Regions from separate parts of the Homo sapiens genome. Here region 1 is reported to be linked to region 2. The links are microRNA targets in miRTarBase. Many come from high-throughput screens and were not tested one by one. Region 2 holds a microRNA gene; the other region holds the end of a gene's coding sequence.
What was found. The annotated mature microRNA hsa-miR-1468-3p reads AGCAAAAUAAGCAAAUGGAAAA and lies in region 2 at 3,529-3,550, opposite strand. An mRNA with a match to its seed (bases 2 to 7 or 8) in the 3' UTR can be bound and repressed. Matches are read on the target gene's strand: a 7mer-m8 pairs with bases 2 to 8, a 7mer-A1 pairs with bases 2 to 7 and ends in A, and an 8mer does both.

Region 1: the mRNA of CRYBG3 is a reported target of hsa-miR-1468-3p. Seed matches in the 3' UTR shown: 7mer-A1 at 1,405-1,411.

What each region holds. Positions count from the first base shown.
Region 1 is chr3:97,942,348-97,950,542 of GRCh38, forward strand. CRYBG3 (crystallin beta-gamma domain containing 3) reads left to right here. Exons shown (of 22, transcript NM_153605.4): 21 at 1-96; 22 at 879-2,637. The coding sequence ends at 967. RIOX2 (ribosomal oxygenase 2) reads right to left here. Exons shown (of 10, transcript NM_153182.4): 7 at 7,497-7,668; 8 at 5,014-5,102; 9 at 3,451-3,540; 10 at 1-2,995. The coding sequence ends at 2,837. Among named protein-coding and RNA genes, the nearest start is that of RIOX2, 26 kb to the right of the region's middle.
Region 2 is chrX:63,782,484-63,790,678 of GRCh38, forward strand. MIR1468 (microRNA 1468) reads right to left here and starts at 3,604; the gene lies at 3,519-3,604. It overlaps ARHGEF9 (Cdc42 guanine nucleotide exchange factor 9), which reads right to left and starts at 2,731. Exons shown (of 10, transcript NM_001353921.2): 1 at 2,633-2,731. The coding sequence starts at 2,662.

The DNA of each region.
Region 1 (8,195 bases), not on the chromosome of region 2:
GGACTGAACATGGGCAATTCAGGCAGAAGTGGAGACTGAATAAAAATGGAACTATCAGCTCTTATCTCAGTGATCAACTTGTCCTTGATGTTAAAGGTGGGCCTTTGATGATACCCAATGTTGTGTCCCTGGATATTAGTTTCAGTTCCAAATCTCCTCATTTTGGGTAAAGGACATCCTTATGTATAAGAGAAATGTTAAGTCATTTAAAATTATGCTTGAAGAAAATTAAGATAGGCAGTTTTACAAACAAAACAATTAGCAGAAAAAGCCAAACAACAAAGCTTAGGGTTTTTGTTCATTAGTACAGTTGTAAAACTTTCATTTGCTACGTGAACTCAGAACAGTTCTAAATTTCAAGCACCATAAACCATGAAATGAATGTCATCTGTTTCTTAGAAACATCTCTAGCTTTTTGCCAGGAATTGCCATGGTCCTTAAAAACCCTCAGGTAGAATTTATGGTAGGTATCAATTAACCTTGTTTTTGAATTCAGCAAGGTCAGGGCCAATATTATTCATGGCTGTTGCTTTAATTGGGTTAGTCACAGTTTTGTTGGTGTAGAAACAAAAACACAGTACCTGACATTCAGCCAGAGTTCTCTCAAGAGCACTTTGTTCTAAAGAATCACATTAAGGCACGCCACTTATACAATCATGTATTATACCTTTTAGTATTTCAATTTGAGTCATAATAAGGTCCAATTTGAGGTGAATAATGGCTAAGCCTGTTCAAACTCAGCTTCCCATTTCAGACTTCTTTGTAAATGACACATTCATCCACCGAAATGGTGAGCTGAACAGAAGCTTGTGAAAATTGTGAAATTGCTAAGCACCTGCCTGAACAAATAATCTTTTCTTTTGGAATTTCTATTTTAGGAGGAAATTATTGTGACAAGACTCATGTAATTGTAAATCAGCCCCTGGAGGGAGAAGAAACACAGAAATGGGACATTGAAATATTGTGAGAGAATCAACATCCCTAGAAAGATCCCTAGAAAGAGCAAAGAAGGAAACACATCTGTCATTGTCTTGTGGACGTGGAAAGGAAGCTACTGTCCTCACACTCCTGGATCACTGAGCAGAATGAACATTTTCTCCAGCCTCTGAGACTATCGCTCTTAACCATGGAAAAGCTCAAAATATTCTTGCCATTACTCAGTGTTCCTATAAAGAAAATATTATGATATCTTGGAAAGGTTCTATTCCTGATCTCCAGCTGTGGTGAGCAAGTTTCCTGAAGTGTTTATTTTCTCTCATATCCACCAAACGTGAATCCTGTTCCTGATGGCCCGTTATTGGACACTGGTGATGCTATTATCCTGTATTATTTATTAATATCCTACCTAGATGCTTGTATGAGTACAAAGCATAAAGAAACAGATTTCTATAGGTCAAGTCATACTTTTGCAAACAGATGAGTAATTTTTTAGCAACACCTGAAAATATACTAAACTTTCCTAGATAAACTTTAAGGTTTCTATACTGAGGCTTTTATAATGAACGCACCTCGTTAAGTATTTATACTTGTAACTAACCCCAGGCAGGGACCTCAGCTTTGTTAGGAATAAGGCACAAGAAGTATTTTCTGTAGCTATTGTTTCCTCAGTCCTTCAAACTAAAAAAGTACAAATAAATAACCTATGGCCAAACTTGCACTGTTACGTGTTAACCAAGACATCCCTTTAGGTGACAAGACTCTATAACAGTGGTTACCTGTCTCCATGTTGACACTTCATCCTAGATTTAAGGAGAGGCATCAATTTTTTTTTTTTTTTGCCTCAAGAGAAATTTCAAATATCCAAATTAAAACACAGTAGCATTTGAACCTTGACCTTACCATCTCTTTAAGTAAACGTGGAGTTGATTTCTCTACTAAATAACAGAAACCTCAGTTTTTCACTCCCATTGTAAGTAACTTTTATTTAAGTAAGTAAAATCAGGTAGGAAATCACCTTTGACTTAGCTTCCAGTAGTCATTACCACCTTTTACTGCACAATTCACAAGCATGTTTTCCTGGTGAATTGGACTGAAAATTACATTTTGACAACTTTTTTTCCTTTTATCCCCAACTTTTGCCAGAAAGCAGAAAAATGCTCTATTTTTATAAAGAAAGATTAAATTCTCCAATGATATTTTAAAAAATATCAACCTACATGCACTTTAGAATGTAAAATAACAATGACTATTTTAAACTCGAAGACCCACTATTTTGAGTATTTTTTATAGACTTTAAATACTGGGTTTTTTTCCTCCTTCAATCTCAGGCTTTTCTCCATCTTTTAAGCAGCCTCTGTAACTCCCTTTTGTCCATAGGTGTTGCGTGCCTCTCATCTGTGGGGAAGTATTATTTAATAAAATTTATGTTACAGGATAACTTTATTTTAATGGGCATGGGCTTGTCTATACACAAAGGTATGTATATTTTCATTATAAAAAACCAGTTTAAAATTTTTTCTTATTTTAATTGTTTGAAATTTTTCTAGAGCCAAAGAAGCTCTTTAAAGAAGTTGTTTCTTCCAAAGAACAAAGCCAGGTTAATGACATTCAATTCTAAATGATACATTGGAATTGTGCCTTTTCTACCACACTGGATTAAATAAACTTGTCAAAATATGGTTTTGTCATTTTCTGAGACACTTGGTAATTTGCTGTTCTTTCTTTCATGTGCCCGTTAGTACATTTGGCCAACTGACCACCTGTAACAGGGAGGTCTCATGTTTGTTAGTAGATACGCAGGTAAGGAAACTTGAATTCATCCTCTCCTCGGCTCAGGTCTTTGCTTTTCTTTTAATATATGCATATAAAATAGTAGGCATTTGATTCTGCAAAGGCACTAGACTACTTGAATTAAACATTCTGTCCAGAGGGATAATACCAGGCTTTCCTTTTCCTCATCTGTAGTAAGTTTCAGGTCCTTGACAGAAATAGCTGGACTATTCCAAATTTGCTTCAGTGCATCCAAATGTGACAAAGGGAAGCGAAGTCCATGAAACTGAAAGGATAAATTTATTTGTCAAAATATATGTATACTACTTATGTCATTGAAGTAGCATTTTCCTGTAAATTTATTCTCCATACATCATTATTTTTGATACCCCTCATGAGTATTTTAGACACACTACAATTAGATAACATAAAAGATGCCAACTTCTATATAAAAGGCATCCTAATTTATGTAGTAAGTGATATTAGTAATTTGAAATGTTTTACATTATACCATTCCTATAAGGCTACAGGTCCCAGCTAGTATGTCTTAAAACTGGTGTGCATGTATCACAGAAATGTCTGACTTAATCATCCCCATGCAGGAGCTCTGTGAGTAGTGCAAAATGGTTAAGTCCACAGTGCAGCCATAAAAAGCATATTACCTGTAAATCAAAAATAATCAATTCTTCCCAACCACCACCCAAGTCACAGGATAGGCATTTGTTTTCAGTTGAAACAAACCTCTGTTTCCTCCTCATTTCCCATCATGTGTGTCTCTCTACTATTCTTTAAGGAATGATAGATGTACACCATCTTTTCTTGAGCTTCATCCTTTGGGGAAAAAATAAATGCATTAGGCCATCAACAACACAACACTGAAGGTGTCAGTACTAGGAAGGTTTTCCAATAGGTCAACACCAAAAAAAATTTCAAAAGCCTTGGTGCTCAAGTGAAATTTATTGAATACTGTAAAGAATCCTTTTGGCAAAAAGTGACGGGTGTGTGCATCCACACAATGTCTATACTTCATTAGTCACCACAGGTTACTATTTGTATGTGGCAATTAATGGGCATTCTAAGTTGTTAAAACAGCTGGAGTGCTACCTGGAAGAGCATCTTCAGGATTTAATGAAAAAGCAGTGATTTATGTATCAACTTATCAATGAAATCCTCAGTTTTTTTAATCATACCTGCACTATCTTTTTTGAATAAAAAAATCTGACATTTCTAGGTATAAACTGACAATTTATAATCATGAAGTCATTAACTCCTGAGAAATACCAGCTGTGTGATCGATAAAAAACTCCATTTCAATTACACTACCCTCCCAAATGGTCCCTATCTCCCTTCACTCCCCATGTTACACAGTGCAGTTTATTGTCTCTTCCAGAGCCTTTAGTCATTCTTTGTCACCTCTTAGATAAGGGCAAAAAAATCTTAGCCTAGCGTACAATGTCTCAAACTGACTGGTTATCAGAATCACTATTTTTTTTTTAGACAGGGATGTAGGAATGTGTACTTTTGAGGATGTATATATATATATATATATATCTATTCATGTATATTCATATATATATTCCAACTCTGGCCCTGACGGCTGGAACAATCTGGTTATCGAGACATGTTGAGTGCCCCTCTCATCCCCCTTGATCATTCATGGGATAGCTCCTTAGAGAGCTGATTAGGAGGAATGAGGTGGAGCCATATGGTATGAGATCGTTCCAAGGTCTTTAGGACTGTACAGGGAGCTCTATCAAAACATAAATCCAAAGGCTCCAAGACCAGATGAAACCCAGGAATTTATAATTTTAAAAAGCTTTCCAATTGACTCCATGATCAGTTAGCCAGTTTGGGGAATCACTGGGCTAGGAAGCAAAATTACAGAATATATACTTTGTTCTCCATAATCTACAGGATAGAGTTTAAGGAGATGCAACAATATCCACAAAACCACATAGAAATATAGATCTGCACAGTGTGGAGGACTGGGGCTGAGAAACTCAGGAATGAGGTCTGTGGCTGTCCAAGCAAGAACAGTAAGGCCCGAAGTAGGATGAGAAGCAAAGACCAGACATTAATCACCACATAAAGGGGATGAAGGAAGGTTCTGTGAGGATGAGGGCAAGAAAATATGGAATTGGAACTGTGAGATTTGGTCATCATCTGACCTGAAGAAATGGCATTAAACTGAATGCAGGTGGATTCCTAAAGAAGGGCAGAGACCAGTGGTTAATCTAATAACCTGAGGCCTCTGATGAAAAACACCCTGAGAAGACAGGAAATCTCCTCCTCTTGGATACTCACAGATTGATCTTGATCCGGCAGTACTGTGAGGACAATGTGGTCTTTAAACTGCAGTCTCACTACACTGTCCAGCCTCGGTAACTTTCCACCTAGAAAACCCCAAAGAGAGAAAGCCGACCTTCAAAAAAGGAAACAGGCAGATTCAAACTTGCTTATACATACACATAGGAAACACATTTACTAACAATTTACAGGTGAATCCAAACATGGCATACACTCCAACTGAAGAATTTGCTTACCCCAACATTGTACTGATATTATAGTTCACATCATTATGCAGCTCATTCTTACAGTGAAGACAGACATAGATAAATAATGTAAGTTTATAAGTACAATAAATAGACAAAAATAATACCATCGAAGTACAGTGGCTATCATAGCACATAAGGCTGTGGTGCTTTCTGCACAGAACACTCACTCCTCCAGGTTCTGTCCTCTACAAGCTTCTCGCTCAACATATGGACTCTGGAAGTACTACCTGAGTTCAAAATTGCACTACTCCACCAATTATTAGGTGTGTGACCCTGGTCAATTATTCAGTCTATGTAAGTCAAGAATAGTATCCTATAAAAGCCATCTAATAAAGTCCACAGAAAATTTTTTTTTTCCAAATTGGATTTAACTTAGTGGAACAATACCCAATAAAAACAGACTAGCCTTACAGGGTCATCTGCGTGGGGAAGGAGTCGTGAGGGATCATCACTTTATTGAGTATAATGCCTAAGATAAGGAAAACACTGAAGTAGTCTGGGCCATAAGCTGGTGCATAAGCAAACTGTTCTGCTAAAGATTAAACCATGTGCTTGTAAAACATTTGCTATTTTGAATAGATACAATCAAAAACAAATTCTAAGCTTCCTCCAAAGACTATGATAAAAATGTATATAGAATCAGTGTTGGAAGGGACCTTATAGATTATCTATCTCAGTGGTTCTCTCTTGGTCATAATTAAGAGTTTTATTAAAGTTAGTAAAAAATACTCTTTTCACTCAACCCTGAGAAAGAACAGCAGCCAAAAAGCTGGCCTGGCACTCACAGCTAGGTCTTTGTGTTCTCCTGTTGAACACAGGCAATTCCACAGAATGCTAACATCAGAGATCACTGTCACCATGATAGGTCAAAACAAAACACCACCACTCCGTACATACTCATGTCTGGACTCAGGCAAGGCAAGAACATATTCCAAACCACAACACTGACCGAACATCCCCCTACTCTGGCTAATGAGTGACCACTTCCGCTTTACCATTGATAACTTCAGCCTCATACATTCCTCCTGCCTACCAGATAACATTTAGGAGACTTAATCATAGAATCCCTTCCATTTCCTGACAGCATCCAATCCAGAGCAAAGCCCTGCTTCCTTGAACCCTCTCCAAAATCACCTAACATACACCTGAGTCCTATAAGTCTTTTCTAACACCGTTTTACTGAGATGCCCTGCAGTTCTCAATGGTGTGTGGTCTTCCCACTGCAACAAGTCAATAAATCCAATTTCGTCTGAATTCAGGAGTATGTTCTTGGTGGTCTTTGCTATAGGATACTGACATCATCCATCTGGAAGTCATCAATGACATCATCCATCCAAAAGTATGTTATATCATTTGCAGCCTAAATCTGTCATAAATTAGGCACCTGTGCCTTGGAGAAGGTTGATGATAATCTTGGACATTTCTTGAATCTCACTGGCTGATGGTAACAATTTTACCCATGCTATGATTTGGATGTTTGTCCCATCCAAATCTCATGTTCAAATTTGATCCCCAGTGTGGAGGTGCAGCCTAAGGGGAGGTGTTTGGGTCACATTGTGGGGAGCAGATCCCTCATGAATAGATAATTCCCTGGGGTTGGGGGCGGTGAGTGACTTCTTGTTCCATTAGTTCCCATGACAGCTGGTGTTAAAAAGAGCCTGGCACTTCTCCTCGCTCTTGCTTCCTCTCTCACCATGTGTTCTGCAAATGCCAGCTCCCTTTCCCCTTCCACTGTGAGTAGCCTGAGGTTTTCTCCAAATGCAGATACCAGCACCATGCTTCTTGTACAGCCTGCAGACCATGAGCCAAATAAACTTCTTTTCTATATAAATTACCCAGCCTCAGGTATTCCTTTAAGCAACACAAATAAAGACAACCCAACCCTGACTTAATTCCAACAAGATTATTTCAATGTTCAAATTTTGAAAACTTCCTGAAGACTATGAATACCAGAGTACCTATAAATATACATATTTCTCACCCAAAAGGACAGGGCTCTTATTTCCCATCAGGGTGGGATACAAGTTCTTTCCAAATGACTTCTAAGATACAGGTTGCTAAAGGTTGAGTGCAGCACATCTCGTCTGCCCATATTCACTAAGGATGGATGTGGTCCACATTAACACGAAAGCACTTCATACTTTCCATCTGTTCAAAAAGGAGCCTACCCAGAAAAACCGTAAACATCCTGCATTAGCCTCTGACCACCCAGAAGAAAACAGCAAGCTCCACCTGGTGTTGACAGCTCTGCCCCATCTCCCGCAGAGTAAGGGGGGAGTCTGTGCATAATAAAATCCTTCTTCATGTCTGAGGAAAGCAGTTCTTTGGTGCCCTCCAGCCGGTCTGCAAGTGTCCTCAGGAAGCCACTTAATCGTCTTGTAGCAACAGTTGTGGATTCCACCTGCTAGGAACACAGAAGTGAGTCCTGGCCCAGATGCCAGCAGAACTTACTGCCCAGCTCAGTCTCCACAGTAGACTGCAAAACTGCCAGCCACCGGGTATAGACATTAATCCATGTCATTCCAAAGGGGAAGGGACAACCTGAGCCCCTAAGAATGATATCTCATCATTTCCTTATAAACACTGTTAATTCTAAGCTGCCTATTGTTTGCAAAAAATTTTCAGAATTTTGCCTAGAAATAGAGATCCTTGGAAATATGGTACAGTCTGAGCTCTGCCTTTTGGAAAGCAGGTCACTGTCCTAAGATGAATGCTTCAGAGAAAGCAACCTTTGCTCAACTCAGCTCTAATCCACTCATCTCAAAACTAATCAAATAACACTCCTGTTTCAAAATGTAATAAAAGAACAGGAGGCCAACGAATACACCGAGGCCAGGATCTCCAGTACAGTGAGTTTCTCTTAACTAGTAATCTGATGTGTGCTAAATCTACAGTTCTCCTGGCCGTACTATTCATTTACTCAACCAACAT
Region 2 (8,195 bases):
CCGTCCAGTGTGAACTCACAGTTTAGCATCCTGTATCTATGAGACAGATTTTATTCTGTAAAATCTTGAACAATGTTTTATGTTCAAGGCCCACGATTTACATGTAACACTTGAAATAAGTTACTACAGTCAAATGTACTAAAAAGAAATCTCACTGTTATAAAAAGCTCAGTTTGTACTTCGGGCACCTTGCAAACGAAAGAACAAGGAGCAAAGATCTTTCAGCTAGCCACGTTATAAAATGGTGGCTAGATACACAATCCCTATTTGTTCGTAATGAGCCACTAGTTAAATTTTATCCAACACATACTTCTAGGAATCTGAGAATCTAAGGCCTAGAAGGAATTTTGGTGCTTATTAACATCCGCATTTAATAGGTAAGAAATCTGAGGCCCAAAGGATTTCTGTTAGTGGCAAGGCCAAAACTTAGAGGTTCCCTGCCTCTCAGGCAAGAATAGAGTTTACTACTCCCATCTCTTGAATTCTGGTAAACAGCTAAATAAATGCTTTCATCATATAATATTCATTGTCTCAGTCCTCTAAGAATATTATGAGATTTTTCCCCATCAACCAATCCTTAATTACACAGTCTCCACAAGATGTCTGCCACCCTTTTCTCTCTCATACACTGTTGGCAAAACTTCAAATTTCTTCATTAATTTAACCTGTTGTCAATGAGTGGCTCTGGGCCCCTATACTTCAATATATTTGGGAGAGGAAGTAAGTCTCACCCTGACCCAGTTCCCAGTTGCCAGAAATGCCAGGACTGGCATGGATTTTTTTCGGGTAATTTTTTTTTTTTTTTTTTGAGATGGAGTTTCGCTCTTGTTGCTCAGGCTGGACTGCAACGGCACAATCTCGGCTCACCGCAACCTCCCCCTCCTGGGTTCGAGTGATTCTCCTGCCTCAGCCTCAGGCATGTGCCACTACGTCCAGCTAATTTTGTCTTTTTAGTAGAGACGGGGTTTCTCCACGTTGGTCAGGCTGTTCTTGAGCTCCCGACCTCAGATGATCCACCCGCCTCGGCCTCCCAAAGTGCTGGGATTACAGGCGTGGGCGGCCGCGCCCGGCTTTCAGGTAAATTTAATGGCACTAGATCATCCTGAAGAAAGTCCTTTCCCAAGATCATGACTATGTTCCTTTCTTCCCCTCTCAGCACCATTTGAGCAAATGATTGGTGGAGCAGTGGGGAAGGACTGTGGCAGTCAGGAGACTCAAGTGCTAGACTCAGCTTTGCCTCCAAGGAGTTTGTGGTCCTGGGCAAGTCTCTCCCACTCTCTGGATCCCAGCTTTCCTGGCTGGACAGCAAGGACTCTAAGGTCTTTACCTGCTCTAATCTTTTCTGGTTCTACAAACATTTGATGCAGCTTTAATGGGACCTCAGGGAAGTAGGGAGGTCTGGGAAGAAGGGTCTTTTGAAGCCCCAGCACATAGGCATATGAACCGGATGCCCTTAAGAACCACTGAAACAGAGATCTAACAAAACTCTGAGGAAGGGAAGAGGACAGCCCCTCTGAATATAGTCCTAGCCCACACCAGATTCCCTCTTCCCCTCCACAATGAAAGCAAAAATGGAGTTAAATATCAGTTTTTGCCCAACCACTTCAGGCTACTTTCCTTCATCTGCGGGTTATGGGTGGCAGCGTAGAAGTGTGGGCTATTGCCATCAGTGCCTGCTGACCCAACCTAACTGCCTTCTAAGGCCCTTTTGCTTATGCCTCCCAGCTGAGGACAAAGTCATGGGGGCCTCCCACTCCCCAGAGGCCCTAACCAGGCTTAAGCTGCTCCTGGCTAAGTCAGAGAGGCATCAAAATGCAGCCACCACTTCCTCTCTGCAAAAGGAAGTCATTCCAAGGTCTCCAGGTGGAGAAGGGAACACCATGGCATAAAATGAACTGTTGGAGGATTATACTAAACACACACACAAGCACACACTCCTTGGGAGGGAGAGAAGAGCTCTGTTAACTGACTGTGGCCCAAGCCCATTTCCAGAATGTGGGTTTCTGCAGCTGTCTCTCCTTGACAAAGCCCCAAGTGTGGACAGGGTGACCCCAGCCCGGACAAGGAAGGGCTTTAGGGCTCCCTCAGGCAGCTTCCTGAGAGAGAGAGAGTGGCTCTCTGGCCCTCATGCTCTGGGGCTGACCAGGGAAAGGAGTTGCAGAAAATCTAGTTGGGGGCAGGGGGGAGTCATGCAGCTCTCCCATAAGGCCCCCTCCACAATTCCAGGCTTTGTGACCGTCCCCTCCCCCCACAACCCCGTGCCAGCTTGTCAGCCTCCTGCGAGCTTCACTGCTTCCAGAGAAGCCCTCTGCCATCCCCCTTCCCTCTCTGGCCTCCCAAGTGACCCCTGGGATGTTCCTGGGCACATAATCTGGCCCCCACCCCTATTCCACCTTAATCTCAGAGGGAGATAGAAAAGTGGAGGGGGATGGTAGGGGGGTTTCCTGGGCAGGCAGGCTAGCAGGGACTCCTAAAATGGCCACAGCAAGCTCACTGGTGTCTCAAGGACGGCGGCTAGGGCGGTGGGCAGAGGCCAGGGTGCTCACTGCCTTGTGGCTCGTTGGAGGAACTGGAGGTGGGGCTGGGGGACTGAGAGGCTCAAGCAAGGGAAGCCAAGGTTACATGCACTCACCATTCCCGATCCGCCCCTTATCCACTGCATGGTGCTTGCGAAGTCCGGCTTCTCTGAGGCCCCGTAGCTGGCGCGAGTTGTCGCGGGCTGACTAGAAGGGCTGGGCTGAAGCAAGCGAGAGCCCCAGCGCCCCCTCCGCCGCCCCTCCTCCACAGCCCTACAACCCAATCCCCTCCGCCCCGGACCTCGCCTTCAGTCAGTTTGTTCCATGCCAACCGGCAGGCTCTGTCTCTCCGCCCTGCTGCTCCTAGAGGTCTTGGCAGGGAGAGGTGCGAGTGTGGGGGGGTCCTAATGGGCTGCTTTTGTCCCCCACCAAGGCTTGAGAACTGTGGGGGTGGGGTGCAGGGAGAGGATGGGGGCGAATAGCCTCCGCCCGCCCAGGAGAAGGCAGCTGCTACCTCTGCCTGCCTCCCGCTGCGCTGGAGTTAGATGCTGTTTATTGTGGGGCTTCCCAATTGTGTCGAGTCAGCGGAAAGTCCTTTCCAAAGTTACCAGAGGTGTTGTGCCAATCTCCAGAATAATAAGATCCTGCCCCAGTGGAGCCAAGCCAGCACTCTCATGCCTCCCTCCCCCACCCTCCCTCTGCATACTCCCCTAGGGTCTTCTCTCTTTGTGTACTATCTGAGAGCTTTCATCTGCATTACTTTCACTTCTCAGAACAACCCTGTAGAGGCAGCCATTAGTATCTCCAAGTTATAGATAAATAAATGGAGGTTTGGAAGAGGGAAGGGGCATAAGGTCACATTAAAGAAAAAAAAAAGATAAATCCTCGACTTTACCCTCTGCGGCTTTCCAAGCCTCTTTCGGCTATCTCTCCCTTTCTATCTCACACACACCACTCCAGGCTTCTCCTTCATGCCCTTAGGAACATGAAAGGTAGCTTGTTGATGGACGAATTTTCCATTTGCTTATTTTGCTGAGAATGAGTTGAATGCACATCAGCGAAACAGGCAAACGGAGAAACCACCCACCTCTTTATGATTCCCCCAACTCTGGGGAACACAACACAGGCTGGTACCTTTGCTTAGGCTAAAAATTGACTTTGTCAGTCACACTAACATCTGTTATTATCCCTTATAATCCTCACAGTAACTCTATGAGATGGACACAACAAGGATTCTTAATTGCCCACCATTACAGACTTGAACACTGAAGCCCAGAGATTGAAAGACTTCTGCTTAAAGTAGCACAGCCAAACAAGACAAGAATCCAAGGCTCCTGACTAGAAGAGCAGGTCAGGCAAAGACAGAATTGCAAAAACAGAGGTTGCAACCAAAGTAAAAGGAGTTACAGTATGATATTAGAAAGAAGTTCCTGGAGATAATTGACATGAAGACATCACTGGCCTGTTACACGTACTTTATTTGTCCTCTTCTTTTTAGCACAACTTCTGCACTTCATCCAACCTGTTGTTTTGTCCATGCAGAGCTGGGCAAAGATAGAAGCAGTACCTTAATGAGCACCCCATCATGGGAGGTGTACAAGCAGAAGCTGAATGACCCTTTGGCAAGGGATTCCTGAATCAAATGGGAGGTTGCCCTGGATGACCTTTCAACTTCCCTCCCAAGTCTGGTAACCCAGGCATCAGTGATTCCACAATGTTCTCTCACTTTCCCATCTCTGGGCCTTCTTTCATGCTCAGTATCTTGGATGCACCTCCCCTGCCAACCAGCCCATTCAAACTGTCATGACTGTTCAAGATCTGGCACCAGGCACACCACCTTTAGAAAGCTTTCCAGGAATACCTCCAGGCCCTGATTTTGTCATCTTTCATTTGATTCCTATAGCACTACGATTTCACTGTCTCGATTAAAAATGATCTTTTTATTTCCTGGATGTTACGGGCTGAATTGTTTTCCCCCAAAATTTATATGTTGAAGTCCTTCCAGTACCTCAGAATCTGATGACTCGGAGAAGACAGTCATCTAAACAGCAAGCCAAGGAGAGAGGCCTCAGAAGACCCAACCCCACTGATACCTTGTTCTCAGACTTCTGGCCTCCAGGATTATAAGAAACTCAATTTCTGTTGTTTAAGCCACAGAGTCTGTGGTATTTTGTTATGGCACAGCCCTAGCGAACTAACACAATGGTCATATGAACATTTTACTGTCCCCTTTCACTTAAATGGCATTATGTGTTTTTGAAGCAGTGGCAATGAATTACTAATTTCTGCATCTTCTACAACAGTGACTGGCACATAGTAAATACCCAATAAAAACTTGGAATTTTTTGATGGATGCATTCATTCAACATTATCATTTAGCCCCTGTGTGCCAGGCATTGTGACAGATGCTCAGGATACAAGACAAAGTTCCTCATGGACCTTACAATCTACTTACAGAAGAGAGATAGACAATAAATAAGTAAACAAACAAAAATATTTAGAGATTGTAATATGTGCTCTGAAGGATATAAACCAATTTATGTGATGTGAGTAGCCCTGGAATTGTGGAAAGTATCTGTGCCGGTCATGGTCCAATCAGGAAAATAAAAACCACCCTAGGTCTTTTAAACTGCGAGCATTTAATGCATGACACTTACAGAGCTAACAAGCCAGACAGAGGATGAGGATGCAGCAACCTAGCATTTAACAAACACAGAAAGCTGCTACCACTCGTAGGGATGGACGGATAACAGATGAAGCCATGCAGAAGCTAAAATCATGGGTTGGACAGCCTATTGGAAGCAGGTGCCATGAATGGAAGAGTTGTTCAAGAGGAGCTGGAGCCATGGAGGAATACAGCTACCACCAGAAAACACCTCTCTGATACAGGTGGTGGGAGAAATACCCTGGGTTCTCCCTTCCTCCTAGCCACCAATCTCCTGTACATGTCTCCCATTGGACAAAAGAAGTGAGAAAGCAAGGAAATCTAACAAATGTAATTTTCAGGAGAAGAGTGGAGAATGGATCTGGATGCAAACAGGCCAGTGTTAATATAAAGCCTAGGGACTCCTGCAAAAAACAGGTGCCTAGAGACTCCTGCAAAAAACGTGTTGATCCCAGAGGTGTAAATAGATGCTGTTGAATCCAGTCATTATGTCTTGAGCACCTATTTGCCTAGAACCATATGAGTAGTTAGAGGAGACATAATGTAGTTGGTAGGGCATAATCTCTGAAGTCAGAACAACTTGGATTGTATTCAGTTATTGGCTTTGCCACTTACTTGGGCAGATTATTCAATGTTCTATGCCCTGACAGTTTCTTTATCTGTGAATAGGGCTGACAAGATAGTTACAAAGATTTGATAAATTTGTCCAAGGAAAGTACTTAGCACAGGGCCTGGAAGCCAGTAAGAATTCAGGACAGGACAATAGAAATCTGGAAAAGGGGTTTCCATAATCTCTGTGTTCACTCTCTTGAAGTCCTGTGATCTCCCAGAAGCCTCTTTGGTACCTAGCCAGGCACCAGCTCTCCACTCTAGTAGAGGGCCATGAGCAAAATGAAGAGAAAGACAGTCATGTCCCAGCTTATCTGTGACTCAGGTTCTCCAGTCATACAATGAACACACTAATTGTGTACCTAAGAGTGTTAAAGAATCACTGATCCATAGATATCAGAGTTGGCCTTAATAATTGTAAAGATTATTTCCTCCAACAGTCTCATTTTACTGATGAGAAGATATAGCCCCAGGGAATGGAAGGAGCTCCCAAAGTCACAAAGTAAGTTAGTGGCTGAGCTGGGATAAAAACTCAAACCCTTGATTCTCCAGTGAGTGGAGTGCAGTAGTGAAAACGGGTAAATACTGAAAGGACACAACTACTATAATTCCAAATATTGGAGGCCCAAGACTAACGTGTATATTATAAACTCTTATCTTTACAAAGCAATATTTCGTACATACATTACTACCTATTTTTATTTATTCATAAAATCAATAAATATGTGTGCCTACAATGTGCCAGGTATAGTATGTTAAGCACTGATGCCATAGCAGTGAACAAGATGGACAGAGTTCATGCCCTCATTTCTATTCAATAAACAACTAAATCTGGTAAGCAAATGTGCTAATACAGATGGTGATAAGTGCTATAAAAGAAAGAAAGTGAAGGGATAGAGTAACTCTGGGGGAGGAAAGGGAGTTTAGATAAGGAAGGCTTCTCCAAGGAGAAGGTATTCAAATTAAGGCCTAAAGGCTTAAGGCGAGCCAGCCATGTAAGAGGTAGGGGGAAAGTATTCCAGGCACAGAAAACAGAAAGTACAGAAGCCCAAAGGATTGAACTGGCATGTAATGTTGCAGGAATTAGAAGCGCAATGAGGCTGAAACCTAGAAAGAAAGAGGGAGAATGATAGGAGACAAATTTGACAGAAGCCAGGTCATATAAAGCCTTGAAGACCATAGTAAAACAATCTGGATTTATTCTATGAACTACAGGGAGAGAGGCGTGGGAACTGAGGGATTTTTAAGCAGGAGAATTAACTGATCCGATTTACATTTTTAAAAGATTTACATTGTCTTTTAAAAAACTGTTGTTTTTACAGGGGAAAGATGATGGTGACTTGGACTGGAAGAACAGTAAAGATGATGGACAGAGGTAAAAAGATTTGAGATATATTTTAGAGATAGAAATAACAGAGCTTGATGATGGATTGGATGTGGAGTGTGAGGGAAAAAAATGAAGAAATTCCAGAAAACTTTAGGTTTTTGGTTTGCAATACTGGGTAGATGGTGGCACTTTGGCTAATGTGGGGAGACTGGCATAAGCTCGGGTTTGAAGAGGGAAAAAACTCAAGACTTCCATTTGAATGTATTGAGAGTGAGCTGCCCAATAGTTATATTATTAGAGGGGATGTCAGGAAGACAACTAGATATGAAAGCCTGGAGCTCAGGAGAGAAGATCTAGCTGGACATACACATTTTGGAGTCTTCCTCATATTTATGATATTTAAAGTCCCAAGACAGGATGTAATCATCTAGGAGGGAACATAGATTTTAAAAAGGGCCCTGGACAAATCCTGAGGTTCTTAACAATTAGATAAAAGTTCCACAGAGAAGGAGAGATTTATCTATAGAGACTGAGAAGCAGTGGCCAATAAGGTAAAAATAAAACGAGGATAAATCATATTCAGGTGAATGTTTCAAGACTAGGTGTGTGAAATGTTGAAAAGTTAAATGATATGCCCATTGTACTGGCAACAAGGTTGGTGATTTTGACAAAAGTAGCTTCACTGGCATGAGAGTAAGAAAGATCATATTGGAGGGGTAGAGGAGTGAATGAAGGGAGTAAAGAGTGAGCAAAAGTAAACAAGTAGAGACAATGAGTGTAGACAACACTTTGAGAAGTTCTCCTGTGAAGGGAATAAGACAAGACAATATTTGGAAGGGGATGTGAGGTCAAGGAAGTCCTTTTTATTCTTTTAACATGCAAATAAGGACATATTGATATAATGATGGGAATGAGAGGAAAGGCTTATCACATAAGACCTTGCTAGTTGAAGCATGGTCGACAAACCAACAACAACATCATCACCTGGGTGTTTGTTAGAAATGTAGAACCTCAAGCCCCATCCCACATCTACTTAATCATAATCTACATTTCAACTAGATCCTCAGATGATCTGCAT